6 separate regions of the Homo sapiens genome follow, and regions 1, 2, 3, 5 and 6 are each linked to region 4. Evidence: fine-mapped expression QTL. A gene starts in region 4. Each other region holds a variant in brackets. All regions are shown on one strand. Distances are between the middles of the regions.

The links. PIP is the estimated chance that this variant, and not a neighbour inherited with it, causes the effect.
Region 1: its variant is the best candidate, but not a certain one, in a credible set for the expression of TMEM63C in whole blood (TOPMed, PIP 0.85).
Region 2: its variant is the best candidate, but not a certain one, in a credible set for the expression of TMEM63C in whole blood (TOPMed, PIP 0.71).
Region 3: its variant is the best candidate, but not a certain one, in a credible set for the expression of TMEM63C in whole blood (INTERVAL, PIP 0.61).
Region 5: its variant is the best candidate, but not a certain one, in a credible set for the expression of TMEM63C in left ventricle (GTEx, PIP 0.87).
Region 6: its variant is the best candidate, but not a certain one, in a credible set for the expression of TMEM63C in whole blood (INTERVAL, PIP 0.72).

The regions. Positions count from the first base shown.
Region 1 is chr14:77,204,758-77,209,842 of GRCh38, forward strand. All of the region lies in intron 1 of TMEM63C (transmembrane protein 63C), which reads left to right. Among named protein-coding and RNA genes, the nearest start is that of TMEM63C, 26 kb to the left of the region's middle. The variant C/G (reference allele first, on the strand shown) is at 2,715.
Region 2 is chr14:77,236,322-77,241,406 of GRCh38, forward strand. TMEM63C (transmembrane protein 63C) reads left to right here. Exons shown (of 24, transcript NM_020431.4): 9 at 303-411; 10 at 2,373-2,446; 11 at 3,091-3,171; 12 at 3,282-3,405; 13 at 4,154-4,287. Among named protein-coding and RNA genes, the nearest start is that of MIR1260A, 27 kb to the right of the region's middle. The variant A/C (reference allele first, on the strand shown) is at 2,747.
Region 3 is chr14:77,280,844-77,285,928 of GRCh38, forward strand. It overlaps POMT2 (protein O-mannosyltransferase 2), which reads right to left. Exons shown (of 21, transcript NM_013382.7): 13 at 4,638-4,789; 14 at 4,107-4,198; 15 at 2,954-3,030. Among named protein-coding and RNA genes, the nearest start is that of NGB, 12 kb to the left of the region's middle. The variant G/A (reference allele first, on the strand shown) is at 2,688.
Region 4 is chr14:77,178,834-77,183,918 of GRCh38, forward strand. It overlaps TMEM63C (transmembrane protein 63C), which reads left to right and starts at 2,965. Exons shown (of 24, transcript NM_020431.4): 1 at 2,965-3,061. RefSeq lists an enhancer at 3,286-3,415.
Region 5 is chr14:77,225,688-77,230,772 of GRCh38, forward strand. All of the region lies in intron 6 of TMEM63C (transmembrane protein 63C), which reads left to right. Among named protein-coding and RNA genes, the nearest start is that of MIR1260A, 38 kb to the right of the region's middle. The variant G/T (reference allele first, on the strand shown) is at 2,103.
Region 6 is chr14:77,258,000-77,262,999 of GRCh38, forward strand. TMEM63C (transmembrane protein 63C) reads left to right here. Exons shown (of 24, transcript NM_020431.4): 24 at 1-1,496. LOC124903351 (a long non-coding RNA gene) reads left to right here and starts at 1,820. Exons shown (of 2, transcript XR_007064276.1): 1 at 1,820-3,143. The variant C/T (reference allele first, on the strand shown) is at 2,106.

The DNA of each region.
Region 1 (5,085 bases), 26 kb after region 4:
TGAGTTGGCTCTATTAAACCTCACATCTACCCAATAAGTAGGTGCTATTAACATCTCCATTTTACAGACAAGGAAACTGAGGCATAGGGAGGTTAAGAAGCTTGCCCAAAGACATGGGGCTAGTAAGTAGCAGAGGCAGAACTTGGGCCCAGAGAGTCTAGTACTAGAAATCCACATTTGCTGCATACATGATGCCTGCCTCCCAAGATGCTCAGAGGCACAGGACTTGGGGAGCTGGGCCTGGCCTGAGCTCTTCCCTAAGGAAGCAAAAATGGAGCTGAGATTAACCAGGGGGAGAATGAATCAAGTAATGGGAGAGAGAACCTTCCAGGTGGTGGGACTGGCATATGCAAAGGCCCTGTGGCAGGAGGGAAGGTGGCATGCTCCAGGAACTGAGGGAACAACCTAGGAGGCTGGAGATGGAAGTGAGGGGGAAGTTTGACATGATGAAGCCAGAACACTAGGCAGGGCCCCACACCCAGGCCTTGCTGGCCAAGTTAAGGAGAGCGAAGAAAGCCCTTCTAGCTGATTCCATCACAGCCTGGTCCAGGAGGCCTCCCCAGGCACTGCAGATTGGGTTCGGTTCATCTGTGAGCCCTTCTCACACTGCGTTATCACTGCCTTTCAGCCAAGGCCTTTCTCATTCACCTAGAATGAGCTTGAGGAGGGGAGGAACACATCTCATCCTCTTTAGCAACCCCTATCCAGTAGAGAACTCAGGAAAGAATAAGTGAGAACAGTAGGATGGAAGGGAGGGTGAGATCAGCAAGACCAGGGGGTGTACCCAGAAGGCTCCCTGAAGAAAGCAGAGTTGAACTGGGCCTTGCCAATGGAGCATTCCCGTTGGGGGAGGATCAAGGTCCTCCACAGAGGGGAGGAATGGAGGGGGCAGAGACAACCAAGGCCTTTGATGGGCAAGGGGCCTTCCATCGGCTGGAGCTGAGATTCCTCGTGGGGAGCTGGGGGAGGTGAGACTGGAGGGGCTCCTGGGGCCAAGAGGGCCTCCCCTGGTCCCAGCCTCTGCCCAGGAGCAGGCCAGGAGCAGAGAGCTCAGATGTCAAAAGGAGCAGGGAGCTGTGCAGAAGCTCGGGCCTTGGCTTTAGATCTCCACCCCTGCTGTTCAGCTGCTAGCTGTATGACCCTGGGCAGGCTACACACCCACTCTGGGCCTCAGCATCCTCATTTGTAAATGGGGACAGTTGCCACCTCTTCTCTGGCAGGACTGTTGGGGGCCAGGTGAGATGACTTTGTAAACATACTTTGTCACCTGGAGGAGAGTGCACATAGGCCCTCCGTCAGGCTCAGAGGTAATCCAGAGGCCAGGCCCATTCAGGACCCCGCCCCCTACCTCCTGGAGGCTACCATTTCTCTTTTGTTCTCTTCCCTATAGGAGTCTAGGTTTAGACCACCCCAAAAAATGACTAGAGGGGCCTCAGTAGCTACCATCTTCCACTGATCCATTGAGGGGGTGGGGAGGTGGGAGGGGCAGGGCAGGGGGCTGGGGAGGCTGCCCCTGCCTGCCCTAGTGAGAGCTGTGCCAGGGAGGCCTCCAAGTCCTCTTCCTGATCTCTGCCCCTGGGACTTGATGCTGTAGTCAGCACAGTACCACTGCTGTCAGGAGGAGCCACTGACCTGGGGTGGAGCAGGGAGGGAGGCTTGCCTCTGGCTTTCAGGCAGACGCCCAGGGACCTGGTGGCCACTTTGGCTTCGATGATGCACCACCTTGGCTTCTTGATCTGCCTGCCCATGGCCCAGCCAGGCCCTGACAGGGGAGAGAGAGGAGATGGCATTGGATTCAGGCTTTGATTCTTCTTTCTGAGTAGGCAGCCTGCACAGGAACCACTGGGCTGCATGTCACTGTGAGAGCTCAGTCCCTCCACCCTCTCCTCCCCATCAACAAGTCTGAGTGGGAGCTGATCAGAATGAGGGCATTTGAGGAAGGGAAGAGGGATTTGATGCAGGAGGAAAGCTTGATTACATGGATATCTGTCAATCTCAAGCCTTCCTTTTAATATATGATCTTTTTCTAATTAGAAGCAACAATACATGTTCATATTAAATAGTTTTTCAAACTCAGAAAAAAATGTTAAGGACTGTTAAAAGAATGTGATATAATTTTAGTTTTTTTCTTTTATTTTTTTTTAGAATCCAGATCATTTCATTTAACAGCATTGTATCCTGCTGTTTTTATTTCCTATTTTACCTTTTTAACACAGGCATGAAGTCACCTGTCCTCCTCCCCGTGTCTCCCTGAGTCACTGCCCAGCTCCCAGGGGCCTGGGTGACTGTGACAGCCCCACAGCTGCCTCTGCCTTCTGTCTCCAGCACCCCCTGGGCACCATCATGGCTGCTCACTTACTCAGGGGCATAGGCAGAAAGCCATGGGTTGGGGTCCAGGGTCTGGAGGACAAGGAAAAGAAACTTCCTGGCAAGGAGAGGCATCTCTGTGGGGGTCCCAGAGGTGAGATGGATGGGGTGGGGAAGCCAACACACTCAGCTTCCAGCCTGAGTCCAAGTGGCCACCTTCTCCCCTGATGGCGTCCCAACTCCATCTGCCACCCACAGAGGTGTTAAGAGGATAAGTTTCTTAACCTCTCTGGGCCTGAAATTCCTCATTCATAAGATGGGATAAAAATAGAAGCTGCCTGGTCCTTCTCTTTAGCTGAGAGTCCCTTAGATGTAGTACAGATGTGGGAGGCCATCCTCCTGTACCC[C/G]AGAAATACAGTCCTCCTGGAATTGGGCAAAGCTGCTCTGTTCCTTCAAAGGCTTGTGCCTTCGGAGGCTGCGTGATGTAGTGGAGGCAGACACTTAGATTCTAATCCTGCCTTTGTCTCTCTCCAGCTGTGTAACTTTAGGCCAGTTACTTAACCTCTCTGAGCCTCAGTTTCTGTACGTGTAAGATGGGGATACTGACTCTTACTTCTTAGGCTGCTACCTCTCATGTTGCTTGTGAGGAATAAACGATGTTCAGTGGGATAGCCATAAGAAGGCCTGGCCCATCACAAATGCCCATGTCCTTTCCTGCCCCTTTCTTCTCCTGAGGCCCCCTCAGGGGCTACACCCATAGGAGCCTGGAGTGTGGTTCCAGTATTCTCTATCAGCCTTTCCTTTTTTCAGTGTACTTCTGTCTTGAGCCTAGCAGCTTCATTCCTGCTTGTTGGAATCAGCGTTCTCTGCCTCGAGGGTGGCACATAGCAAAGTGATCAGGAGGGGGCTGTGGAACCAGCCCCCCAGCTCAGGCCCTAACTTCACGGTACTAACTCCCTGATCTGGGCAAGTCTTTTAACCTCTCTGGGCCTGAAATTCCTCATTCATAAGATGGGATAATAATAGAACCTGCCTGGTCTTTGTACAGGAAACAAAAAACACTCTAGGAATCTTAAGCAAAACCAGGACTGGGACATGATGCTGTAGTCAGCTTGATTCATACAGGGAATCGCAGGGTCTCGAAATCACTGGAAGAATTAGAAGCTGGGTCTTCAGAACAGAGCAGAACTGTCCCTCCAGACAAATTACTCCTCACCCAGTCAGGAGGGCCATTACTGGAGCCACAGAGTTCACGTCCTTTCACCTGCTATCTAGGGATGAGAAAACTGCTGCAGCTTTTGCCACAATTGCCTCTCACACCACCCCCTCCCTGGGAGCCAGAGACTGGGCATTGAACTTCCTGCAGAGAATCCCTTCCTGTCCTCGGCATGGCTTGTCAGCAGAACACGGCCTGAGCACCAGGGAGATCGCCTCCTCCTCCCTCTCCTCCCTTCAGCCTTGTAAATCTATCTCCAGCATGTCTAATTGAAGAGCTCTAATCTGTATCCAGAACCCCAGCTGCAAGGGAGTGTTGGAAATGTACCTTTTAACTTTCCAGCTTCTGCAATATAGGAAGGCACAGAGGTGGGAATGGATGCTGAGGGTATCAACCGTGTCCCATATGCAACCTGATAGGTTTAACCCAGTCGACACCTGAAGAGACTTGGCACAGGGCCTGGCATATAGAACTCACTCAATAAGTGTTAGCTGTTATTCTTATTCTTGGGCTGGGGCAGCAGCGAGAATTGCCTGGCCCTGCCCACGAGCCCTGGCAGAGAGCAGCAGAAGCAGAAATGCCTTTGCCCAGCATGGTGCTGTCCATGGTGCTGAGAGCCCAGCTGGACCCAGCCAGGGGCAGCGGGATCATTGCTCTGCTTGCATCGTGGGCCCAATGGAAGGTGGAACTGCAATCCTCTCACCCCATGCTGAGGCTTCAGGAGTGACTGCAGCGGAGGGACGTTTGGGGACCTCTCGGGGAAGGCTGGCTTCGATCCTATGAAGAGGACAGCAAAAGCAACAACTTAGTTTGTGGCACAGTTTACAGAAAGAGTCTCCATGCACTATGCCCTTTAACTAACACTCATAATCACCCTGGTATAGGCAGGACAGATATGATCTTTAAGAAAAAACTGAATAGCAAGAGGTTAACTAGCAGCTGATAAACAATAGAGCCAGATTCACACCCAGTCTCCTTACCTGCAGCTGTATGCTCCCTCCACTCCCTGCAGCGACTGCTGGAGGGAAACTTGGTAGCCAATGTGCGCTATGTGGGGGCAAAAATTTGGGATTCATGTACTCTGTGCACTGTGCAAATGTGTACAAACCACCTACATTTTATTCTTTCCTACCCTTGAGTGTGTCTCTGGGTAAAGGGCCTTCTGTCTCTCATTGAGGCCTACTACGTGATGGTCTTTGGGAGAACCATGAAAAGTATAAGAGAAAGATATGGTCCCTACTATCAAAGAGCCCATGGATTTGTTGGTAAGCTGGCTGCTCACGTGCATGGGAAAATGAGAGGATGGTCCCAGGCAGTGGTTGCAAGGCCAGCTGTGTAAAGAGGGTGGGAACAAGGTTCAGACAGGGCTGGTAATCTGAAAGAGGGTTCAGAGGAGTACAATATAAGCTGGACTCAGGGGCTTTAAATGCTGATGAGACCAAGGCTCACCCAAGTCCAGGAGGAAGTGGCTCAAGCTGTGTAGGGGTGGGGCAAGCAACTCTGAATAAGGGGGCTAGTGGGGCAGAACAGAGGGTACCATGAGGAAGTAGCCAGGCCAGTGG
Region 2 (5,085 bases), 57 kb after region 4:
ACTGTGATGGGTGGGGGTATGGGCAGACTGTGGTGGGTGGGGGGTATGGGCAGACTGGTGGGGGGGTATGGGGAGACTGTGATGGTAGGGGGAGTCTAGGGAGACTGTGATGGGTGGGGGTGGGGGATACTGTAATGGGTTGGGGTCTGGGGAGACTTGGATGGTTGTGGGGGTCTGAGGAGACTGTGATGGGCTGGGGGGCCCCAGGAGACTGAGGGTAGGAGGAGGCCCAGGGGTCTCTGTGCAGTGGGCTCTGGGGAGCTCACAGGCTGACCTCACTGCTGCTGCCTCCCTCCCTGCAGGAGCAAGCTCCTGTGGCTGCATAGCCTGCTGTCCTTCTTCTACTTCATCACCAACTTCATGTTCATGGCTCATCACTGCCTGGGGTTTGCACCCAGGAATAGCCAAAAGGTAAGTAGCCTACAAAGCTGCTTCCCACTGTGGGAAGCTGGGGTCCCTCCCCACTGGGCTGACCACTTCCAACCCTCAGAGAAGCCCTCAGAGGGTCCAGGGAGACTGTGATAGATGGGAGGGGGCGGTTTCACCTGAGCAGGGGCCAAGCTTCCTCCCTTCAGTCCTAGTAACAATCACCTGGCCCCCACCTCTCACCCTTCTCCACCCTCTCACCCTCCTCCACGCTGCTCCACCCTCTCACGCTCCTCCACCCTCTCACCCTCCTCCACGCTGCTCCACCCTCTCACGCTCCTCCACCCTCTCACCCTCTCACCCTCCATCCTCTCACCCCTAATGAAACTTTCAGACTGGTTGGTAAATAGCTGCTGCCCAGGTACCTCCTATCCCTGCCCCTCTGCTGCCCCGCCCCTCCCCAGGGACTCTTGGACTTCCCACCATCTGAAAACTAAAGGATTAACAAGGCCCAGTGGACCAGCGGGGGCCTCCATGCTAAGTGGTCTGGGCCCTGCTGAGCTGCTGCTACTTAGTGTACCTGGCCCTGCCCACCCCTGCTAGGCCCGTGCCTCGCCCTTCTGCAGTCTCTCGGAGATCAGAGACCCCCGTGTATCCCCACCGTCTCAGTTTGGGTGACCCCATCCAAGCAGACCCTGAGACTTGGAATGAGTAGCGCTTGTTTATGGGAGGTGATCCCAGGAAAGGCCAGTAAGGGAGTGAGGATGCAAAGGCAACCAAAAAAAGGGAGCATGGAGGGGCAACTTACCCCTGTGGGCAAGTGGAGCTTCATGACCAGGGAACTCTGGGAGCTGGTGTAGAGCACATGCCCCAGAATTTTCCTGGAGGTGAGCAATCGTGGGTATTTTCCACCAGCTCCCTGTCCACCGTTCATTGAGGGTTGCGCTTGGGGGCTTTAACTCCTCCCCTACTTGGCCCTGCACAAAAGCTGAACATGCCCCAAGGCCGGGAAAGAGCAGTCGCAGTATTTGAAGCATGCTGCAGGTGTTGGTGTGCAGAGATGACTGACGGGGGGCCACGGGCAGGCACCAGCAGTGCCACCCATCTGGACCAGCACCCATGCTCTGCTGGGGATGGGCAAGAGTGAGGAGCATCCTTAGTTCCCGTCCTCAGCCTTTCAAAGGTTCAGTGGTGTGGAATCAGCTCCTTCCAGGCCGTCCATTCAAAAGGACTGATTCACTTGAACCCACCCCAGAGTGCAAATCCACATTCCCTGAAAAGTGAACCCAAATGCTTCAGCCTGCCAGGCATGGAGGCTTGGTCACCCTTGACCAGTCTGGTGTCTGCTACTTCAGCTTTCCTTCTTGTCACCAGAAGCCTCTTTCAAGACCCCTGATTCTTGCAGCACAATTACCAGACTGTCATCTTAAAGGTGACGACCCAGGAAGATATTTCCCATTCACAGAATAAAGTGTGAAGTTTAGGGAAGCTTCCCTACCCTCTCCCCAGAGTCTTGTTTACTTCCCAACTCCCCGGCCCAGTCTCACGTGAGGGATTTCCCTAGAGATGTGAGGCTTTACGCTGGAACAGTGGAAGCTACAGGGAGAGCAGAAATCACTGTGGGGTCGCTCTGGCAGCTCTTTCCAATCATGGAGCTCTGATCCTCCACCCCAGCCTGATGGCAGCTTTCCAGTCCTTCCTCCCTTCACCACAGCAGTCCGGAGCAGGGCACCCACAGCTGGGCACAGAGGAGAACGGAAGCACAGTTGACCAACCTCAGAGCTGCCTGGCTCAGCTGGGACGCTGTGGGCTAAGGCAGCTGGCACTTCCTTGGCCCACAGTGTCCCAGCTTGGCTCTGGCTTTCTTGGCTCTCTCAGCAAGGAGGCACTGGCATCAGCAGCCTGCTGTGAGCAGAAGGCCTGCTCTGAGCCACCAAAAGACTGAGGTGTCTGGAATTCCTATGCAAGCACAGTCTTCTTTCTCCATTTTTATTTTTCCCACCCAGGTCACAAGGACACTAATGATCACCTATGTGCCCAAGGACATTGAAGACCCAGAACTCATCATTAAGCATTTTCAGTAAGTGGGTTGGGGTAGGCCAAGGCGTGGATTGCTTCCTCCCCATAACCCCGCCTGGGTCCTCAAGTGGGTAGTGAGTTGGTGCAGGATGGTGGGACTGGGACACCCCGGGGTGGCTCTCCCTGGACTCAGCTCAGGATCAGCTTTTTAGAATGGGGAGGGCCGCTGGAGCTGGAGCAGGGTGTCTGAAGTCAGGGACTTCCTGCATGGCATGGCTGTGATATGGGTGATGGGAATTTTTCTTTCTCCTGTTGCTTCAACTACTGAGCACAGGGAACCTTGGATCACAGCTATTTAGAG[A/C]AGATCATCTGGAGACATCCTTTGTGACCCCAAGTTCCCAGCCCCAAGGACACTGTTCACTGAGCTAATTATCTCTTCGTGAACAGCTGTCTCCTGGGTTCCCCAGTGGGTGGAGCTCCGCCCTTTTGCCCTGTTCTGAGTTGTGTAGGAAGGATTTGGCAGCTCTCAGATTGCCAAGGTTCAAACCCTGAGGTTCAGCTTTAGGAGCAGAGATGGAGTATCCCATCCAGGAACACCAGGCAGCTGAGCCACCCAGCCCTCAGGGCCGACATGCTGGGCAGGGGGTAGGGGCAGCACATCCCCAACCCCACAGGCCGACTCAGCACCCATGTTTGTGGCTGCAGCGAGGCCTATCCAGGCAGTGTCGTGACAAGAGTCCACTTCTGCTACGACGTCAGGAACCTGATCGACTTGGACGATCAGAGGTGAGGCTGCAGCGGGGCCTTTTGGGGCCCGGGGTGGGGGTAAAAGGGGAGGATGGGGCTCTGCTGGCCCCTGACCTGCAGGTCCTTCTCCTGTTGCCCACCGCTGGCAGGCGCCATGCCATGCGGGGCCGGCTTTTCTATACAGCCAAGGCCAAGAAGACTGGGAAGGTGATGATCAGGATCCACCCCTGTGCCCGCCTGTGCTTCTGCAAGTGCTGGACCTGCTTCAAGGAGGTAACTGGCTTGAGCGTTGGGAGCACAGCAAGGGAGCGGTGGGGTCCTGGGGCTCTAGGCTCTGTGCCTTTGCCCGCACTGTTGGGCCCCAGGCCTCACTCAGGTCTGCTCTAGTGCTCCCCACCCAGCTCCTTCCTCCCCATCCACCATGTCCTGCCTCCCTGTTGAGATGGGAGCCTTTCTGGAGGCCACCTTCAGAACAATCCAGGGAAGCTTGCTGCTGTCTCCTTTCTGGTCTTGGATGGGAGAATGAGAGAGAAGGACCAGAGAAAACACAGCAGGCTACACGAGGCTGCCAGGCCTCAGGCTCCCAAAGAGATAGGACAGAAACATTTGAAGGCAACAGCTTGTCTTATCACCTGACCACTGTGGCTCAAAGAGGGCGTCGAGACTCAGACACCTGCTTCAGGACCATGCCGAACTTCTGCCAGCCCAGAGATTCACCCTCTCTCGTGGAAATGCGGCAAACACATTCTCTCACCTCTCTGGGGTCCACCCCAAGCCTGAAAGCCCCCGGGTACCCCTAGCTATGCCTCACTTTCCCCAGATCTAAGGGCAGGGGTGAATGGCAGTCATCGCCTCTTCTTGTTCTAGAGGTGGGACTTTGGAGGCCAGCCAGGGTCCTGGGCTCCTTGAGGTGCTTCAAGGCCACCACAATCCAGGGAGGCTTGAGTGGGGAGGAACCTCGTGACCAGGGAGGCCTTCCTGGGGCTCTGGCCCCAGCCCTGAAGGCTGCCTGCCACCCCAGGTGGATGCAGAGCAGTATTACAGCGAGCTAGAGGAGCAGCTAACGGACGAGTTCAACGCCGAGCTCAACCGCGTGCCGCTCAAGCGGCTGGACCTGATCTTTGTCACCTTCCAGGACTCCAGGATGGCCAAGCGGTGAGCACCAGGCAGGCGCCCCACCCAGCCCCAAGCATACTCCTGCTTCTCGGCACTCTCCTCCCTCTCCACCTCCAGTTTCCCCTTCTGCCTCCCCTGGGCCCTCCATGCTCGTCACAGGCAGCTGCCATCTGGCTCTCCAGTGGATGAGATGGCCATACCTGCTTCCCCCAGCTGCTGGGGCCCAGCTGCTCTCAAGGGGTGCCCAGGCCGGGGCTCCTCACTCCCTGTCCTTGCTTTAGCACAGAGGTGGTCAGAGAAGCCTTTGACCTCATGGTCCCTCTTCTGCCCTTGACAAGAATGACATCCCTTTTCCCTTTTTCTTTTTTTTTTTTTTTCTTTTTTTTTTTTTTTCTTTTTTTGAGAGAGTCTCGCTCTGTCACCCAGGCTGGAGTGCAATGGCACAATCTCAGCTCACTACGACCTCTGCCTCCCAGGTTCAAGCGATTCTCCTGCCTCAGCCTCCCAAGTAGCTGGGATTACAGGTGCCTGCCACCATGCCCGGCTAATGTTTGTATTTTTAGTAGAGACGGGGTTTCACCATGTTGGCCAGGCTGGTCTCGAACTCCTGACCTCAGGTGATCTGCCCACCTCAGTCTCCCAAAGTGCTGGGATTACAGGTGTGAGCCACTGCGCCCAGCTGACACACACATCACTCCCTCCTCACCATAAGAGAGCGTCAGGATAGAGCAGCTCTGTTTGCCCTTCTCCTGCCGCAGGCCTCCCCTAATTCATAGCTCTACAGTCCCCTCTCTTCTCTGCCCCAGCCTCTGGCAGCCCATGCGTTGACAAGGAGTG
Region 3 (5,085 bases), 100 kb after region 4:
CACTTTGGGAGGCCGAGGCGGGTGGATCACCTGAGGTCAGGAGTTCAAGACCAGCCTGGCCAACATGGTAAAACCCCGTCTTTACTAAAAAATACAAAAAATTAGCTGAGCGTAGCGGTGGGTGCCTGTAATCCCAGCCACTTGGGAGGCTGAGGCAGGAGAACCACTTGAACCCAAGAGGCGGAGGTTGCAGTGAGCTGAGATCATGCCATTGCACTCCAACCTAGGCAAAAAGACCAAGACTCAGTCTCAAAATAAATAAATAAATAAATAAATAAATAAATAAATAAATAAATAATAAGGCTTACTTATTTGTTCCCTTCAGGGGCCAATTTCAAACAGAAAAGCAGAAACTCTCATGCGTGCCTAGACTTGGAAGAGGTTGCTTTAGCTTAGTGCTTCTCCACCTTTTTTTTCCACTACTGCCCCTCTACCAGGAGCCTTTGTAGACAAGTTTCTCCCTAAACACACTCCATGACATTTTAATACTTTATACTGTACATCTTACTTGTGCTTTATACATAAAAAATTAGATATTTTGCCCTCCAAGAACACATTTCATCTATTGGGAGAGAAATCAACCCTAATGCATGCTTTGGTTTGAAGGACCCAGACTCAGCCTCCCTAATCCAGCAGCCAAGAACATCTGCTAACCTTTCTCTACAGGGCAAACCAGGTCTTTGCTAAAACAGGAAGGAGTAGGGTCAGGATCCAGGATATTAACCACTAGGACTGGGTTCTGCCTTATCACTGGGACAGACTGAAAAGGCATTTCCCCAGAAGGGGAGTCAGCTGCCATGACTTAGGCCGGAGCTTCTCCACCTCAGCACTCCCAACATTTCGGGCTGGATGAGTCTTTGCTGTGAGGACTGTCCCGTGCATTGCAGAGTGTTTAGCATTCCTGGCCTCCACTCACTGAATGCCCGTAGCACTCCTACCCTCAACCCCTCAGTTTCCCAGCCAAAAATTTCTCCACAGATGGCCAAAAGTCCCGAGAGGCAAAATCACCCTCAATTAAGAACCACTGGTATAGCCTAAGAAAGACCCAGAAAGTTCAGTGGACTGCCACCCAGTGCCTTATGAATCCAGTTCAGCAAGGGGCTGGGAATAGTTTACAGGCCTCTACATGGTGGAGAGGTTGTGCCTCCAAGGTCAAAAGTGCATCCAGGGCATCAGACACAAAGGGGACAGCTGCACGGCCCCAGCGTCACTGCGGCCCTTTGAAGGACCTGGGAATGAGGAATGAATCATTCTGGACCCCTGCGGCAGTTGCTGAGGGAAACCAATTCCTTCAAATTGTACAGTTTGGTCCCAAACCCAAGGACTCCAGCCAGAACTGTACCAAGCCAAGGGAATCTTATTCACTACATTAAACTCTGAGAAATCCTGCTCTGTTGCTAAACTAAAAGAGGAAAGAAAAATCTGCAACCATCACAGGCATATGTACTTGTAAGTTGTTCTCTATGGCTGAAATCTGGATGGGCTCATTCCTGTAACTGCACCAGGCAAGGCAGCCTTCTCCTCCAGGTCCCGGGCCACTACTCAGCCAGCGGAAGAGCCCTGCCCCTGCAGTTTCTATAGTCTGGACTCACTGTTTTCATCTCTCTCCCCTCCCTGACTCTTTGTTGGCTGAATAAGAAAGCTCTCATTACTTCCCTTTTCTTCTCTGACTCTACTTCTTAGATAATGAAAGACAAAATGAAACTCGTAGATTTAGTCTTAAAATTTGACCCAGGCCCAGAATGATATTCTGACTGACAGGCACATGTTCAAAAGAGCTATGTCATCAGGCCACAGTGACAGCTACAAGCAGAGAGTCAGAAAGGAAGTGACCCAGAGATGCTTAATGTCAACTTATCACCTCCCAATGCGCAAAAATGACAAAATTTGAATTTTTAAAATTTAATCTGGTGAAATAAGTCAACTATATGTACTGAGTACTGCTTACATAATCACTTCCAGGGAAGTCCACTTGACAATGGCTTACCAGGGGAAAAATAACAAGTGCTACACCTCCCTGCAATGCTGTGGGTAGAGTGATAATCACATATCTGGCTTGAGATAGTGATTCTTAAACATTATTCCTGCAGAACACAGGTTTTCCATAAGCCAGAATAAGGGGGTCTTCCACTAAACAGCAGGACTACAGCAGGGGAAAATTTAAGCTAGTGAGTAGAATTTTCTCAATTTAAAGATTTCTTCTCTGAATTTTTCTTAAACCTTTGATGCTACAACTGCTGTCAGCTACTAATGATAGAGAGTGCAAACAATGTCTTAGAAAACCTTAAAAAGAATCAATCATGCCCTGCCTAAGCAGTTTCTGTCCAGGAATATGAGTGGGCTCGTGGCTGGGATTTCATGCTGCATATAAACAACACACTCAAATTAGCTATCCATCCTAACTGATCCTGATTTCATATGATGGAATGAACTATCAGTATCTCATGATCTTCAACCAAGAGCACTATGATTTTCAGGGGCTCTGCCACTTGGGCAGATTCACAAATCACTTAGAGGTGAAGGAGTGTAGTGGTAACTAGCAGTAACTCTAAAAGCCTACCAGCCTGGCTCTGAGGGCTGGATCTACCTCTTACACTTAGCTGTGTGACCCTGGGCAAGTTCCCTGACCTCTTTGTATGTCAGTTCCCTCTCCTGTAACTGGGAATGATGGCAACCTCCATATGATT[G/A]TAATAAGTATCAGATGAGTATAGTGCTTAGCGTAGTGCCTGGCACATGAGCTGTACAAGCAGTCACTGGTATCACCATCATCACCACCATCCTCATTCTGTGGTGAGGGAAATGCCTTTGAGGATCACAGAAAACCGTAGTAAAGATGCTTTCAAATTCCTCCACAAGGGGGAATGGATCTGTAGCATGGCATTGACTTGTGATCCAAATTCATGGCTGCCCAAAAGCTCTTAGAGACGCCATGAAATGAGAAGGGGACACATACCCGGATCATGACCATGTGGGATTCCAGCAAGATCTCAGGAAAACTGGGCTGTAGCACATCCAGGCTGATGTTTGGCACTAGGGGAAAAAAATGCAGGAGAAAAGCCTTTGTCATACATTCTTTCCTCAGTCTGTCCATGGTGTCCACATTCCCACCAGAATCCAAATGCAGCCTTGCTGACAAGTTCACAACTGTTGAGGAGACAGAAGAAAGCTTGGCCCAATTCTTGATCATTTACTTAGCTGTATGAAGAACTCATCAGGCATTCTAAGAAATGCAAAGGAAATAGACAACAAGGTTTCACCTGCTTGGTGCTCCAACAGCTCCCAGCACCATTGCTTTTCACTGTGGTACTGGCTCAAATGCTGCTCTCCTATTAGGCATAAGGGACAGCTGCACAGCCCCCGAGTCACTGTGGCCCTTTGAAGGGCCTGGGAATGAGGAATAAATCATTCTGGACGCCTGGAGCAGCTGCTGTCGGGATGGGGACCAAGTCTGTCTCCTCGCCAATATGTCCACAGGGCCCCATGTGGTTCCTGGCATACTTGATAAAGAGTTGTTGAATTAGTTGATTAGTGGGTTTGGCTAGATTAGGTGGGAAGAAGAACAAAATGAAGGCACACATAAGCTTGAGGTGGGTAGTTTAGGAAAACAGATGATGAATCCAAATACTTATTGAGTTGAAGCTGACAACGCAGTGGAAATATCAAATTGGAGCTTGGGTGTAGAGATGTGGGGCACAGATCAGGGCTGTGGCAGTCACTTTCTATAAAAGCATTGGCTGGATATGTGGGGGGGCGGGGGAGCGACTCTACACTGAGGCATAAAGGGAAAGTAGCAGCTTGCTCCAAGCCTGGAGGCTGGGGAGGTGCCCATGGTGCAGGGGAGAGAGGAGCCCAGAGGAAGACGAGACAGATGGATCTGCAGATGGCCACTGGCCACTTTAGGGAGAGGAGTTTACGGAGGGAGTGGATGAGAAGGAAAAGGAGTATGCTATGTAGGTACAGACAACTCATAGAAAGAGAGTGTTAACAAGGAACAAACAGCAGCAAGTTGAAGGGATAGCACAGTTTACAAACGCTTACTTTTCTAAGATAAGGGTTTCTTATAAATGCTTCCCTCCAGAGCCAGCCCAGAAAGTGACCTCACTCACACTTGGGATTGATATGGTCCTCCACATTCCAGATGGAGTTGAGGGTTTCTTTCAGGTATGGGGTGCAAGTAACTTCCAACTGCTCCCAGCCCCTGTGAAAAGCAGAAGTCACAGATGTCTCTCAGAAGACGTGAAATCCACCAGAGAGTGACACTGTCTTCTGCTCTTAAATCCACAGGCTCCTTCTCTTTTCCACATGGTGGCCATTATTTCTTCATGTTCCATGTTGGACAACTATCCTAGGATAGTCTAGCATACAGTATTCCCATTTTAGAAAAAGACATAGACCCAGAGAGTTATTAGCACCAGCCAGATGTGAAAATGTTGAACTATCAGAACACATAAAACACCGAAGCTCCCCCGGAGTTCTGTGCTCCATAATACACCTGATATCTACTCTCCCTCCATCTGCCACTAAGAACAAGCAGACAGCAGGTGAACACAGGAAAACAAAAGCTTCTGGCATACTCCTTGTAGAGTGAAAGGAAAATCAGGACCCTCGATTGGGACAGCAAAACCCTAGAGACTTACCACTTGGGCAGAACCTTTCCCGAGGAGCCCAGGACACAACCTGTGACCAAATGGATGAAGCGAATTCGACTTCTCAGCACTTTGATCCGGTTTCCAAATTTCCTGTTTACGACCTCAATCCGCCAGAAATCATTTGAGTCCCCTGTTCCATTCTGCCATAAAAGCCAAGAAAAAAATACAAAGAAAGTGAGGGGACTTTAGAGAAAACGTGTCAGAAAGGGAAATGGCCACCCAGATGCCACCATGTTATGAAGGTCAAAGACCAAATTAGGCTCAATGATAGAGATGGGCAAGGTTACAAGAAGGCCAAAGAAATATCCCAGGTGATTGGCATTGTCCCAAAACTCACTATTACAACCAAAAAACAGTAGTATGACTCCTGGAACCAGAAGTCCAGGAGTCCAACTCTTCACTTCATAGAACTAGAGTTCAAGTTCTAAATACCTGT
Region 4 (5,085 bases):
CAAAGGCACTCCCACCCCAATCCACAAGTGAGAGCATGATAAGTGTTTTCAGTGTCACAGACCAGAAGGGCCTTTCTTTTGAAAGCCTCAGTTATTCATACCCATACACCTTTACTGAGAACCTTCTACAAGCTGACACTCATCTAGGTGGTTGGTTGGGACATTGGGGTCATCTCTTTCCCCACCACACAGCCCACCTGGCATCTCCATGGGTTCTCCTCCTTCCATGGGTTCTCCTCCCTTCCTTCCCTTCCCTCCCTCCCTCCCTCCCTTCCTTCCCTTCCCCTTCCTTCCTTCTTTCCTTCCTTCCTTCCTTCCTTTCTTTCTTTTTCTTTCTTTCTTTCTTTCTTTCTTTCTTTCTTTCTTTCTTTCTTTCTTTCTTTCTTTCTTTCTTTTTCTTTCTTTCTCCTCTCCTCTCTTCCCCTCCCCTCCCCTCCCCTTCCCTCTCCTGCCCTCCCCTCCCCTCCTCTCCTCTCCGATGTAGGTCTCTCTATATTGCCCAGGCTTGTCTCAACCTCCTGGCCTCAAGAAGTCCTCCTGCCTCAGCCTCCCAGGTAGCTGGGATTACAGGTGTGAGCTACCACACCTGGCTTCCGTCCCCCTTTACTGTATCTTTCTTTTTTTTTCAAGACGGAGTCTCACTCTGTCGCCCAGCTGGAGTGCAGTGGTATGATCTCAGCTCACTGCAACCTCCGTCTCCTGGGTTCAAGTGATTCTCCTGCCTCAGCCTCCCAAGTAGCTGGGATTGCAGGTGCCCGCCACCACCCCCGACTAATTTTTGTATTTTTGGTTGAGACTGGGTTTCATCACATTGGCCAGGCTGGTCTCGAACTCCCAACCTCAAGTCATCTGCCCGCCTCAGCCTCCCAAACTGTTAGGATTATAGGCGTGAGCCACCACACCTGGCCTCTCTTTACGGCATGACCTTGATGCTTATCAGGTTTCTCCTCTAGGAGGTGGAGTGGGTTGGATATGGGCTTACAACAGCTTCTGTGATGATGAAGCAGAGAAGGAAAAGACGAACTGCTTTTGTTGAGAATTTATGCTGTCCCACCAGACTGTGAATAGCATAACTACAGCAACAACAATGAATATTTGCAGAGCATTTATTTTGTACATGGTATTTCATTTAATCCTCACAATCACCCTTTAAGCTTATGATTATTGTTTTCCCCCATTTTCCATATGCCAAAAAAAAAAAAAAGCACAGAGAGGTTAAGTCCCACATTTAGGTGGCCCAGCTGGGACTGAAATGCAGGCAGCTAGCGTTCCCAGCACTATTCTTGTATTGATCTGATTTGTCTTTGTACCCGCCAGCCTTTATCCTAGAAGAGAATAAAGGTGTCAGAGCAGAGGGGTGTGAGACCTCAACTAGCCCAGCCCTCTCAGAATTACAGATGAGAGGGAAAAACAAAGAGAGATCAAGTGAGCTACCCAAGGTTGCACAGCATGATAGCCGCTAAGCAAGGGCTGGAACCTAGACCCTGATGCCCTGTTGCCACTGCAGAATACGTGTTCAAAAGTCTTCCCGTCCCGTGAATGAAAAAGATAATGAGTGGGCCGGCGCGGTGGCTCACGCCTGTAATCCCAGCACTTTGGGAGGCTGAGGCGGGCGAATCACGAGGTCAGGAGATCGAGACAATTCTGGCTAACGCGGTGAAACCCCGTCTCTACTAAAAAATACAAAAAAAAAAAATTATCCGGGCGTGGTGGCGGGAGCTTGTAGTCCCAGCTACTCGGGAGGCTGAGGCAGGAGAATGGCGTGAACCTGGGAGGCGGAGCTTGCAGTGAGCCGAGATCACACCACTGCACTCCAGCCTGGGCGAGTGAGTGGATAATGGATAGACTTCGACAGAGTCTGTCTATGTGGCTCACCCTTGGGTCTTCGTGGGGTGGTTGGGTCATGAGAACCAGGGGGTCAGGGGAAGAGGGAGATGACTAGAGTGCGCCAGCCTGATACGGTTGTGTGGAAGGGGGTGCTGTGCTGCTGGTTATGGGGAAATCAACCCATGAAAGCATAACCAGCCTTTGACCCCCTCCTCTGGCACCTCATGACCTTGTGTTCACAGGGCTTCCTCTATGGCATTCTTATCATATTGTTAACAGCCCTAACTGGTGAAAGGGAGTCACTTTCAGAGAGCATTGGGCAGTGGCTTCTTTCCCATCAGCTATTGTACTGCAAGTGCCAGATAATGTCGATGACATAAATGTGCCTAGGCCCCTGCCTGGGAGGGAGAGGCTGTTTACTACTGCCCCTTGTTTTGCACACTGGTCTTTGGGGGTTGCAAACACTGGCACCTGTCCTCGGGGTCAAAACCAGTGTCTATAGCAGAGTGGGCAGGACTTTGATGAAACTCTGATACCTGCAGGATTGTGGCCCACCGCAAACCGGAAATGACCCAGCTCACTCCCTTGGCCCTCCCTGGTGGGGCTGTGGCCAATTGTAGATCACTCCTTTGCTGTAGAAGGAGTCTGGGTAGCAGCTGGGTACCAGCCACTAGGCTGGTGCCAGGACCTGGTCCTTGGGCGGGGCAGAGGGCTATCTTTGTGGGAGTGGAGTGGCTTTTCTTGCTTCTGGCTGATGGGACTAAGGAGACTGGGAAAGGCGACATGCCTCAGGGAGGGCGAGGGGAGGTGGCAAAGGAGCTGCCAAGGCCCAATGCATCAGGGCAGCTGGAGCAAGCTGGAACCAGGGACCGGCAGCCTTGTGTGTTTGAGATAGTAATTTGCAGATGGTTCCTGGTAGCGACAGGGTCTCTGAGGCGGAGCCTGGGTCTTCGCGTAGGATCTGCCAGCCTGGGTTCCCCGGCAGGTCAGAGAAGCTTTGGGGCGGGGCCAAGGTTGGCCCCTGCTTGGGAGGAGCCGGGATGCCTCTCTCACAGTGATGCAGAGAGGAATTTGCTGACAGTCCCTTGCCAGGTGGGGCTGGCTTCGCCCAGCCGGCGAGGAGGAGGACCCGCTGGCAGTCTCCTCCCAGGTGGGGAGCGTGGAGCCTGTCACTGCAGCCTGGCGGCCTGAGCGCCGAGCCTGGGGCTGGGGCCGCGGTGCTGAGGACGCAAATGTGGTGAGCACGCGATGCGGGTGCGGTGACCGGGGCTGGTCGGGCCGGGAAGAAGGGGCGCCGGATCCAGGTCCCGCACGGGGAGGGGGCGGGGAAGGATTGCTTGTTTCTGTGCTTTCTGAGACCTTGCATTGGGAGGGATGGGGGTAGGGGAGACTGCGCCACAGTCCCTTGCCACGCTGGCTGTCTCTAGCTTGTACCCAGGAAAGGGTGGCCTGAGCCGCCCACCCGGGAGGGCGTGGCTTTAGTAGACCGGTCTTCACTGGGTTGGGGGAACGGAGGTGGGTAGGAGGTTTGCTTGGGGGGTCCCCGGCCTCCTGCCTGACAGCCAGGTGGGAGTTACCGCTCGGGGCTACCCTCTCCCCCACCCAGGGATTCCCCGGGGCTCTGCCGCCCACTCTCTGGGCTGGGACGGGAGGGGGCAGTCTGCTCCGCCGTTATGGGTTATGACAACGTCACTGCTGCGCTGCTGCCTGGCGGGCTGGGCTCCTGGGCCCCCAGGGGAACAATGCCACCCTTTCCCCATGTGCTTCCAAAGAAAGGCTCTTGCCTCCCTACTCGCCCTGGCCTTGAGAGAGGAACGTTGTGTTTGGATGAAGGCCCTGGGGAAACTGAGGCCCAGGGGTGCTGTGGCTTGACCAAGGTCACTGAGCAGGCCCTACAGAGCTGGCCTCCCAGGCACTGCCTTCACCGAATGCCCTCTGGAGGGGCAGGGGCCCTTCTTCCTCTCTAGACCCCAGGACCTCCCCCCACCCCAGCACCCCATTTCCTCATCCCTGAGAATGCAGGGAGTTGCAACTTCCGCATGGGGCTCCAGGGTATCATGGGTGTAAGCAGCAATTAGATTGTCTGGGGACAGGAGAAAATTGCTCATGAAAAACACCTAAGTGAGCAGAGGGGGTGTGAGCGTGTGCTGTTCTTGTGGGTTCAAGGAAAGAATGAGAGTTGGCTTTGAGGAGAGGAAGGCCCGTGCTGATGGGAATGAGGAGATGAACTTTCTCCTTCAACAGCCTGCAGCGCTCCAGGAAGATGTGTTTTCCCTCAAGAAAGGGTCCATCTCTTAGCACCACCCTCTGTTATCACCTTATCCTTGTTCTCTCTCCGGCCCCTGTCCCTGGGAGAAATGGGCTACATTCCGTCTATTGCCCTTAGAAGTGAACTTTCCCCTTAGAAGTGAATTCACCTTGTTCTTCTCCCTGGGACAGATGACCTTCCCTGGAGGGAAACTGAGGCAAGGAGAGAGCGACATTTTAGAGCCAGAGCCAGATGAGGAAACTGAGGCACAGAGGGTGGAGTGAGTTCTCCAGGTATCTTACCTACATGCAGGTCTTCTGACTCCCCAGCCACCAAAGGGCAGACTGGAGGGGCCTCTTCCTGTCTTCTCTTCGCACCCCACAGTCCCAGCGCTGAGAAGCTGAGGCTGCAAGGGCCTCCTGATGGGTGTGGAGGAGGTCGGTGACAGGGAACAGCACCAGCATTTTCTCCTCCTTTAAGATATGTTTTCTAGTTTCTTGGGAAGGAAGCAGCTTGAAGACGGGAAGTGAAGTCTCTTGGTTACCTTCCCATCATGCCCCCACAGGGATACACAATTTCTGTGGGCCTATCGGAGCCAAAAACAGGCATCCCTCCTGCCCGAGTGCCAGCAGCTGTGAGCATAGCCAGGGAGTGGGGATCCACAGGTAGAGGGACTTCATTTATCTCCCTGACAGCATCTCCGGATCGGGGGTTTGGGCCAGCACCGGTTTACTCCAAGTGAAAGGAGTTGCCATGTGCCTGGCTCATGAATTGCTCCTTTTCAGACACCCTCTGAGCACAGAACCCCTGACGCTGGCCCCTGCTGGCTTCACAGGAGCCTTGGGTTGCATGATGACCACCAGGAGCTGCTGGGGTGACCTGTGGGAAGGGATGGGGTTCCCAGTAAACCAGATGAGAACTAGCTGCTTGTGGGGTGACAATATAGCACCAGAGAGGAGAGGGCCCACCATACTGGAGGGAAACCACATGGTATGTGTCCCTCCCAGCTA
Region 5 (5,085 bases), 47 kb after region 4:
GGGAAGGACCACTTTTAATAGCTGAATCATTACTCGCGTGCTTATAGAAATGCTTCTGTGAACTCCACACCAGGAAAAAGAAACCCTTCCTTTGTGCTATCTGCTTGATTTCTGTGAACATCATTCAACATATCATGTGTTCGCCCTTCTGCCCAAGCAAACATCGGGCAGAAGGGCAGGCCTCGCTCGGCCTCAGTGCCTGGAGAGCAGAGGGGCAGCCCTTGCCCACCTCACCTTGTGGGTTTCTTGAATGCCAGACCCCACTTTGCAAGCAAGCAGCCCCCAAGTCACCTGTTTTCTCCTGCAAGCTGACCTCAAGTTACGTGTTTTCTCCTGATTCCCCAACACCAGCCAGACGCTTCAGCAGAGCAGACACTTACCGGAACTCTATGTTCCCACTGCGTAGGCATACACACATGCACACTCATACATACACGCACACACACGTACACGTGTGCACACAGCTCTGCCTCCACCTCAGACCCCACACACTCATGGGCTCTCCCTCAGTGTGCTCCACCTGTCCTGTCCTGCCCATCCTTTAAACCCCTCCACCCCACCCCTACCCAAAGACTCCTATCACAGAGGCCCCTCTGTCAGGGACCCAGCATCTGGGAAAGCAGGAAGGCAGGGCATTGCACCGTGCATCCAGCAGCTCTTGAGAGCAGTGTCATAGAAGACAGCTTAATGCGTTTACTGAGCAGCAATAAGTCAAGTAGCGTCCCCGTGCACAAACCCATGCGGTCTGGTTGGAGAAACAAAGGTGAACAAGACTCCCTTCGTAGCATTCAGAATGGGAGGGTTATAATTGCTGTGCAGACGGCATGTGGGGAAGAGAGAAATTAATTCCAACTGGAAAAGTATAGTTTTGAGCTGGGCATTGGAGGACAGGAAGAGTTTCGACAGGCGCGATGTGGGATGTGGAGGGCACATCAGAAGTAAAGGACCGTGTGAGCCAGTTTGTTGCAGAGATGAGTAGGGTGTGCACAGACATGGTAAATCTGGTGTGACTAGAAGCAAGGTTTCATGGTAAGTGTGGCGGGGGAGGGTAAAAGATTGGGCTGGAAGGATCAGTTGGGATTTTTTTTTTTTTTTTTTTGAGACAGAATATCTCTCTGTCACCAGGGTGATGTGCAGTGGCACAATCTCAGCTCACTGCAACCTCCGCCTCCTGGGTTCAAGCAATTCTCCTGCCTCAGCCTCCCGAGTAGCTGGGATTAGAGGCACGTGCCACCATGTCCAGCTAATTTTTGTATTTTTAGTAGAGACGGGGTTTCACCATGTTGGCCAGGCTGGCCTCAAACTCCTGACCTGAGGTGATCCACCTGCCTCAGTCTCTTAAAGTGCTGGGATTACAGGCATGAGCCACCGCACTGGGCCTCAGCTGGGACCTTGGCTGGCATACTGAGAATCTTGGGCTTTCATCTAGAGACAGTAGAGAGCCAATTAGTATTTTTAAGCTGGAAACTCAGAACAATATATGTGTGTAGGCAGAAGTATGGAGAGTGAATGGCATTAGAGAAAGTCCAAAGTCAAGGTGAGCAGTTAAGGAGGCTATTCCAATGGTCGAGGTGGGAGGTGCTAGTGACCTGAACCGGGGCAGTGACTAGAGAAACAATGGGAGGGGAAGATGGGAGGGAGATCATAAGGCTACAGTCAGTAGGTTGTGGCCTAGTTAAGAAAGAGGGAGAAATTGAGGTCTGGTTTCTGGGGAGGGTAGTAATGCCATTAGGTGGGAGAGGAAACACAAAATGATGAGATGTAGTCAGGGCAAGTATGCAAGCTGACAAAGGAGCTGTTGAAAAAACAAGATTGAAGCCTAGGAGAAAGGTCAGAGTTAGAGATTTCAACTTGGGAGATGGTGCATGGAGGCTGTAGTTGAAGTCATGGGAGCAGATGGGTCATCCAAGGATGTAAGACCAGAAGCGGCCCAAGGGAGTGCCTCATCGAGGCGGGAGGAAGAGGCATCCTCTGGGCTGGACTCAGTGAAGCCAGGCCAGGACAAGGCTCCCCTCTAGGGTGGGGCGACCCAGAAACCTCTAGTGCTACAGAGGTGGAGTAGAATGGGGGTTGAGGAAAGGACATTGACTTTGGTGAGTTGG[G/T]TCTCTGTTGGGAGGGCAGGCCGAGGATAGGATGTCCAAGACACAGAGGCAGAGAAGGAAGGTCACCTTTTTCCAGAGGTGCATGGAAGGAGGGAAGTGAAGCTACTGGAAGGAGGAGGGAAAACAGGTCAGGGAACAGATCAGAGAGTGGATCCTTGAGGAGCTGTTTTATTACAGAGGAACCAACAAGCACTTGAGCCTGGTTGTAGTTTACAGGGAAGAGGTGTGGGTGGACGCAGGTGCATGCAGAGAGAGGAGGATGCCGAAGATGAGAGAGCAGAACAATGGATCCAGCACGTCTTCAGAAAGAGGTGGAAGGAAGGGAAGCAATGAGAGCAGAGACAGAGAATTAATTGTGAGTAGGAAGAAGGGCGATTGGCTGGAAGGTCAGGGTGGGGCACTTACAAGAAAGATGGAGAAAGGAAACAGGCCTAGTGGTGGAGGCAGGAATTCCTGGCCCAGGAAGAGAATTCTAGTGCTCTCAGTGCCATCCAGTCCTGTCCAGCCCTCTGCTCTCTCCACCTGATTGGAGGCTCCTGGACCTCACCCCGCCTCAGGCAGTGCAAGAGGACCTTCCCCCGCTCTCCAGAAGTTCTCATCCATTCCACTTCTGGCATTTCATTCTCAAGTCCAGGGAGGGAAACGTTTAGCCGCTCAAAGTTAAAAAATCAAGAGCTCTAAATAATTCCTCAAATGAGAACATTGAAAACCTTGAAGGTGTGCCTTTTGTAGTATTGTTTAAAAATAAATCTTTTTTTTTTTTTTAAGACGGAGTCTCACTCTGTCGCCCAGGCTGGAGGGCAGTGGTACGATCTCAGCTCACTGCAACCTCCGCCTCCCACGTTCAAACAATTTTCCTGCCTCAGCCTCCCAAGTAGCTGGGATTACAGGCACGTGCCACCATGCCTGGCTAATTTTTATATTTTTAGTAGAGACAGGGCTTCACCACGTTGGCCAGGCTGGTCTTGAACTCCTGATCTCAAGTGATCTGCCCATCTTGGCCCCCCAAAGTGCTGGGATTACAGGCATAAGCCACTGCACCCGGCCTTAAAAATAAATCTGAATCCCAGACTGGATGCTAGTTTTGCATACAACCTACAATCCTGACAAGGGGGCAGGGGTGGGTAAACCATGGTGTGTCCACCAGTGGAGTGGGGAGGCCTGCATGGTGCTGAGCATGAACCAGTGCTCCATCAACAGAGGCCACTGTCACCATTACGTAAAACCATCGGAAAATGCTTGAGATTAAATGCCAAGCAAAAGAGCAGTGCATCAAATGCTTTTTATAACTATAATCACCAAGTAAAATGAACACAACAAGAAAATAAAGGAGGTTGGGCATGGTGGCTCACACCTGTAATCCCAGCACTTTGGGAGGCCAAAGCGGGCAGATCATTTGAGATCAGGAGTTTGAGACCAACCTGGCCAACATGGTGAAACTCCGTCTCTACTAAAAATACAAAAATTTGGCTGAGTACACACCTGTAATCCCAGCTATTTGGGAGGCTGAGGCAGGAGAATCACTTGAATCTGGGAGACAGAGGTTGCAGTGAGCCAAGATCATGTCACGCACTCCAGCCGGAGCTATAGAGTGAGACTCTGTCTCAAAACAAACAAACAAACAAAAATTAAGTCCAAATGCTTATTATTATCATTATTATTATTTTGAGACAGGGTCTTGCTCTGTTCCCCAGGTCACCCAGGCTGGAGTGCAGTGGCATGATATTGGCTCACTGTAGCCTCAACCTCCCAGGCTCAAGCGATCCTCCTACCTCAGCCTCCAGAGTAGCTGGGACTACAGGCACATGCTACCACACCCAGCTAATATATATATATATATATAGTAGAGATGGGGTTTCACCATGTTGCCCAGGCTGGTCTCGAACTGCTGGGCTCAAGCAATCCACCTGTCTCTGCCTCCCAAAGTACCGGGATTACAGGCGCAATCCACCATGCCCAGCCACAAATGCTTTTTAATCATTGTCTTAGGTTCAATGAGATTGTAGATGAATTATTTACTTCTTTTTCATATTTTCCAAAGTTTCTATGAGCACTTGTTGCTTTTAAATTGTTTAAATTGAAGTATAGCATGCACATGGAAAAGTGCACACCAAAAAATGTACAGCTCGGCCCGGCATGGTGGCTCACGCCTGTAATCCAAGCACTTTGGGAGGCCGAGGCAGGCGGATCCCCTGAGCTCAAGAGATCAAGATCATCCTGGTCAACATGGTGAAACCCCGTCTCTACTAAAAAATACAAAAAATTAGCTGGGCGTGGTGGCGCACACCTATAGTCCCAGCTGCTCGGGAGGCTGAGGCAGGAGAATCACTTGAACCCGGGAGGAGGAGGTTGCAGTGAGCCAAGATCGTGCCACTGCCCTCCAGCCTGGGCAACAGAGCAAGACTCTGTCTCAAAAAAAAAAAAAATGTACAGCTCAGTCATCACAAAGCTAAGGCTGTGCCACCATCATCCTGATCCACAACTAGAACATCGCCAATACCCAGCAGCTCTCTTCCTGTCCCCCAACCTTCATCCCCATCCCATTCTAACTCTATAGCTCAGTATTGCCTATAGCTGAACTTTATGTTTGAAACCACACAGTATGTGTTGTTTGTGCCTGGTAACTTTTACTCAGCATTGTGTTTGTGAGGTTCAGCTATGGGTCATTCATTTTTATTGCTGTGTAACAGGGGTCCCCAACCTCCAGGCCACAGATCGATACCTGTTAGGAACCTGGCCCCGCAGCAGGAGGTGAGCGAGCATTACACCTGAGCTCTGCCTCCTGTCAGATCAGCGGCGGCATGAGCTTCTCATAGGAGCACAAATCCTATTGTGAACTGCACATATGAGGGATCTAGGCTGCCTGCTCCTTATGAGACTCTAACTAATGCCTGATGATCTGAGGTAGAACAGTTTCATCCCAAAATTATCTGCCCCCCCACCACCCCACACCCAGGTCCATGGAAAAAATTGTCTTCCACAA
Region 6 (5,000 bases), 79 kb after region 4:
GGGAGCTGAATTCCGAACAGTGATGGTGACACTCAGCACCTTTGCCACAGCCGGGGGGAACCGGCTTCTGCCTCTGGGATGGGCTCTCATCAGGACCACCGTGCAGCCCAGCCAGGGAGGACATGAGAAGGGCCAGTGGGGGCCTCAATGAACCAGAACAAGCCAAGCTGAATGGGGTCTGTGTGCTCCAGGGCCCTCTTCAGCCCCCTCCCCCAAAGGTCTGGGTCCCTGCCACCAACCTACTGAAGGCCGGCCCCCGGCTCACCTCACCTGAGCACCTGCACCAGGCCCCAGGCACATGGCTGCCCTGAACTCAGATCACCTAGACCTTGTCCCTGCCCCACCTTTGCCCCATCCTAGCCCCAGAAGCTCCAAGCTTCACCGCAGGTGAGAAATTGTGCTCAATGGGCAGAAACTGCTATACCCCCAGGGCATGGCCCACATTTTGGCATGAGGGTGTCTTTCCAGAGAGCTTGGGTTGGCTGGAGAGAGGCTGTCTTTCCCATTCCTTGTCCAGCTAGGAATAAAGGGGAAATGGTCCTAGCCTGGCCCCTACACACCCAGGTCCCACAGGCCCCCTCCCCACTGGAATTTCACCAACCAACAAGGGGAAAGTACGCTGTTACAGCATAGCGGTCAGGCCCAGCAGGAGCTTGGCACATGATGGGGAGGTGGCCAGCTCCAGGCCCTGCCCGACCCCATCATGTGTATTTGGTGTATGGGGTGTGGGGGGTCACACCAGAAGCTGGCCTGGGGTCTCTTCTTTGCTGGACACAGCTCCCTGGCCCCTGCCCCCAGCCCCTGCAGCCCCTGCCGGACTGTGGAAGCCACATATGGGAAAAGTCCTGGCAGACAATGTGGCGGGATGACTGGGGGCTTCTCCCTCTGAACCTGGGTCCAGTGTAGCCTGGCTCTGAGAGAAGGTGGTGAGCATGTGGAGAAGGTTCCATAGTCCACTCTTAGGGGAACCAGCAAAGCCTCATGGCAGTTGGCTCCATCTGGACCTCCCATGGTCACTACAGGATGGTGGAGCAGGGGGCATCTTTTAGCCTCCCCCCGCCACCACATCCAGGCCCTCTCAGGCACCTCCTGCCTCAGCCCACACCTGCCTCACCCATTGCCCCCCTCCCCCCACCTACTGCCATCCCACTCCTCTGCCAGCCACTTCCCAGCCGCCCCACCCCACTCCATCCACCAAATCACCTCCTGACTTAATCCTTTCTGGAAGGAGCTGCCGCCCAGGAACCGGTATTGCCTAGAGCCTCCAGGAGGGGCCCTCCTCAGGCCTCCAGTGGCCCCATGCCCACCTGCCTGACCCTCCACTGCCCCTGGAAGCAAAGTGCCTATCAGCAGCGTTGCGTCCTCTGGGGCCCCCGGTCGGGGGGGAGGGGGTGTGGGCTAACCTTGGCCACCACCACAAAAGGAATGTGCCAGAATGCTGAACCTTCTTGTTAATGCTATGACCGTGCCTTGAATAAACAAGTCCTCCCAACCTCTCCTGGCCCCTGCCTCTCTGCCTGTGCATCTGGGCCAGCCTGGCCTTGCTCCGCTGTGCAGTGGAGAGAACTTTCTGGTCCTTGAGCTACCCAGGAAGCCAGCAGGGCAGCCCCGAGGAGCAGCAGAAGTCTCTGGTGAGTGCTGAGCCCCATGAGCAGGCCACTGGGCTAGGCTAGTGGCCAGACTTCAAAACACACAGATTTCAGGTGAGGCCCCAGGAAGAGCGGCAGACAGGGCTCAGGTCTGCAAGAGGATGAGGGTGGGGGACTTGGGGGATGGGGGAGGTGGAGGAGAGGTTGGGTGGAGGAGAGGTTGGCACGAGGGAAGTGTGTGGGGCAGCCAGGTGGGATAAGAAACACCCGTTAGCAAAGGCTGTTATAACTGTGGCAAGGAGACAACAGTTCCCTGCCCTGGCGGACACATCTCAGGGTCAGGAGACTGGTTCTGTCCCTTCCTCCAGCAGCTGCATGACCCAGGCTGGTCACCTCATCCAGACAGTAGGGCTGGGAGGACATGAAGCGGACTGTTCTGCTTCGTGACTGAGCAGAGCAGATTTGAGGGCAGAAGATGGGAATCTTGTGGGTGTGTTGAGTAGGGGGAGACTTCCT[C/T]CCGCAGTGCTCCCTATGGGGACAGAGGATGACAGTCTCAGGGTGGCTGCCTAAGGACTCTTTCCTGCATCATCCTCGCTGGGTCCTCTCCGCAAACTTCTACGGTCCATCAGTGGCCACTGACTCAAAGTCTACCAAGGTGTGGGCCTGGGCGTGGGATCAAGACCCGTCCACTTGTCCCCTCTCCCCCTCAAAACAATTATTTTCCAAGTCAAGTCAGCCCTTAAAATCCACAAGGGCTGCTTCGCAGGAGAGAAGCCATGAAGACTCCCTGACTGGACGGGACGGGGCTGCGCCCTGCTGCTGCCTCTCATGGTCCCCTCCCAGGGGCCGGCAGCTCCAGGGTCCCCAGATGGCAGGCCTGGGACACTCTGTGGTTCAGCAGACCTTTCGAGGGCCTTTTATCAGGCAGAGACTGAGAAAGAGACAGAAAAACAAGCCGAAGAGGGAGGGCGGTCTCCCCAAGGATGGAATGTCCTCCAGGGAGGTTAGTGTTGGTCAATCCTCTCTCCACTCAGCAGGCCAGGATGGACCGGAGGCCTGAAGGTGGATTTACCTGGGCTGGGGACGGGACTGGGGCAGGGCAAGAGGGAGCCCCAGGAGGCTGGCTCCACTGGGCTGTGCCCAAGAAAGGATTGGAGCACGTGACCGAGTGCTGCGCAGGGAGGAAGCAGCGGGGCCTGAGAGTGCCCCATGCCTCTGCCCAGAAACCAAGCCTGGGGCTGCACGGGGCCCCGCCAGGGAAGCCTGAGGCAGCTCACTTCTGTCCTGAGGAACCTCCTTGCTGGCCAGATTCCAGGTTTCTAGGTCTGCTCTGTGGAAGGCCTTGCAGAGGCGAGGAGAGCCTGGTCTATGGGGAGACAGGTTCCCAGGCTTTCTGAACAGAGGCTGCTTTCAGAACATCTGACAGTCCCTCGGCCTGGACAAGTGGCAGCCCGGCAGCTCTCAGCCTCAATTCCCAAGGTTCTCCAGCCCAGCTGCAAAGGAGAGTCACTCTCAATGTCCAGGCCCCATCCCTGAAAAACCAAAATTTCTCAGGTGGGGCCCAGTACCCTGTATTTTACAAAAGTCCCCCAGGTGATTCCAGTGTGCAGGGAGGGGTGAGTGGATAAGGAAAACAGTCCCAACCTCAGGCACTGCATGCCCTGGGTGGCCTCAGCATCTCACCATCGCCAGCTTAGAAATGACAACTCCCTAGCTCAGGCACGCTTCTGCCATCTTTATCTTCTTTTGCAATAAGTATGAGTACCATGTGGGCCCGAGGGCCACACACCAGGTGTCAGGGGCACTTCTGGCTACCTTGTCATCTTCAGCAAGGGTTCAAAGACTGTCCCTCTTCCCTCCCCTCCAAACACAGAGCCCAGTGGCTTCCATGACCGCCTGCCCATTTCCGTGCAACAGAACGTGACAAGTGCAGTAAACAAATAGGCCTACATAATGGGGTGTCAGGGAGAGACAAAGCCGGATAGGGGCAAGGGGTGCCTGTAGGTGGGGAGAGGATGCTTTGCACTAGAGAGGCCAGCACAAGCTCTGTGGAGGTGAGACATGAGAGCCAGCAAAGGGTCTGTGGGCACACATGCGGAGCCCAAAGAACCAGGCAGAGTGAGCGAGGGGAGGAGAGGGTGGGGCGAGGTCTGAGTGGGCAACAGGCTGTGCAGGCCACGCTGGGACTCCAAGTTTCACTCATCATCTGAGAAACTATGGGAGGATTCTGGGTAGGAGTATGATCCCCTTATGTGTTTGTTTTCCAGGTTTTTTTGTTGTGGTGGTGGTGGTAAAGTACACATAATCATATTCACCATCTTAACCATTTATGGGTTTTTTGTTTGTTTGTTTTGTTGTTGTTGTTGAGACAGAGTCTTGCTCTGTCACCCAGGCTGGAGTGCAATGGCGTGATCTGGGTGCAGTGCAACCTCCGCCTCCCAGGTTCAAGCAATTCTCCTTCTTCAGCCTCCCAAGTAGCTGGGATTACAGGCATATGCCATCATCATTTTTGTATTTTTTAGTAGAGATGGGGTTTCACCATATTGGCCAGGCTGGTCTCGAACTCCTGACCTCAAGCAATCCGCCCACCTTGGCCTCCCAAAGTGCTAGGATTATAGGCGTGAGCCACCGCGCCCGGCCACCATCTTAACCATTTGTAACTGTCCTGTTCAGTGGCATGAAATACATTCGTAATGTGCAACCATTACCACCAGCCATCCTCCACAACTCTTTATCTTGCAAAACTGAGACTGTATACCCATAATCAATAATTCCTCATTCCCTCCTCCCCTTAGCCCCTGGCCACCACCCATGTAACTCTTATGTGCTGAAATGGTCACTGTCACCAGGGTAGGACAAGTAGAAGCAGAAAGCCCAGCTGGGGCCAGGTGTGGTGGTGCACACCTGTAATCCCAGCATTTTGGGAGGCTGAGGTGAGAGGATTACTTGGGGCCAGGGGCTTGAGACCAGCCTGGGCAACAAAGCAAGACCCTATCTCCACAAAAATTTTAAAAATTAGCTGGGCATGGTGGCATGCACCTGGAGTCCCAACTACTCGGGAGACTGAGGCAGGAGGATTCCTTGAACCCAGGATTTCAAGGCTGCAGTGAGCAATGATCATGCCACCACACTTCAGCCTGGGCAACAGAGTGAGATCCTGTCTAAAAAAAAAAAAAAAAAAAGCCCAGTTGGGACTGTGTCAGAGGCATTCAGGAGAGAGAATATGGTAGCTTGCACCAGGATAGGGAGTGAATAAAGAAGCAGTTAAACTTGGAACAGAGGTTGAGGATTCATGGATGATTAGATGTGGGGTCTGAGGGAAAGCAGGAACGCAAGGATGACTCCCAGATCTTCAGCATGAACAACTCAGCACACTCTGGTTTGAGGTGGAGAAAGCTGGGAAGAAAAAGG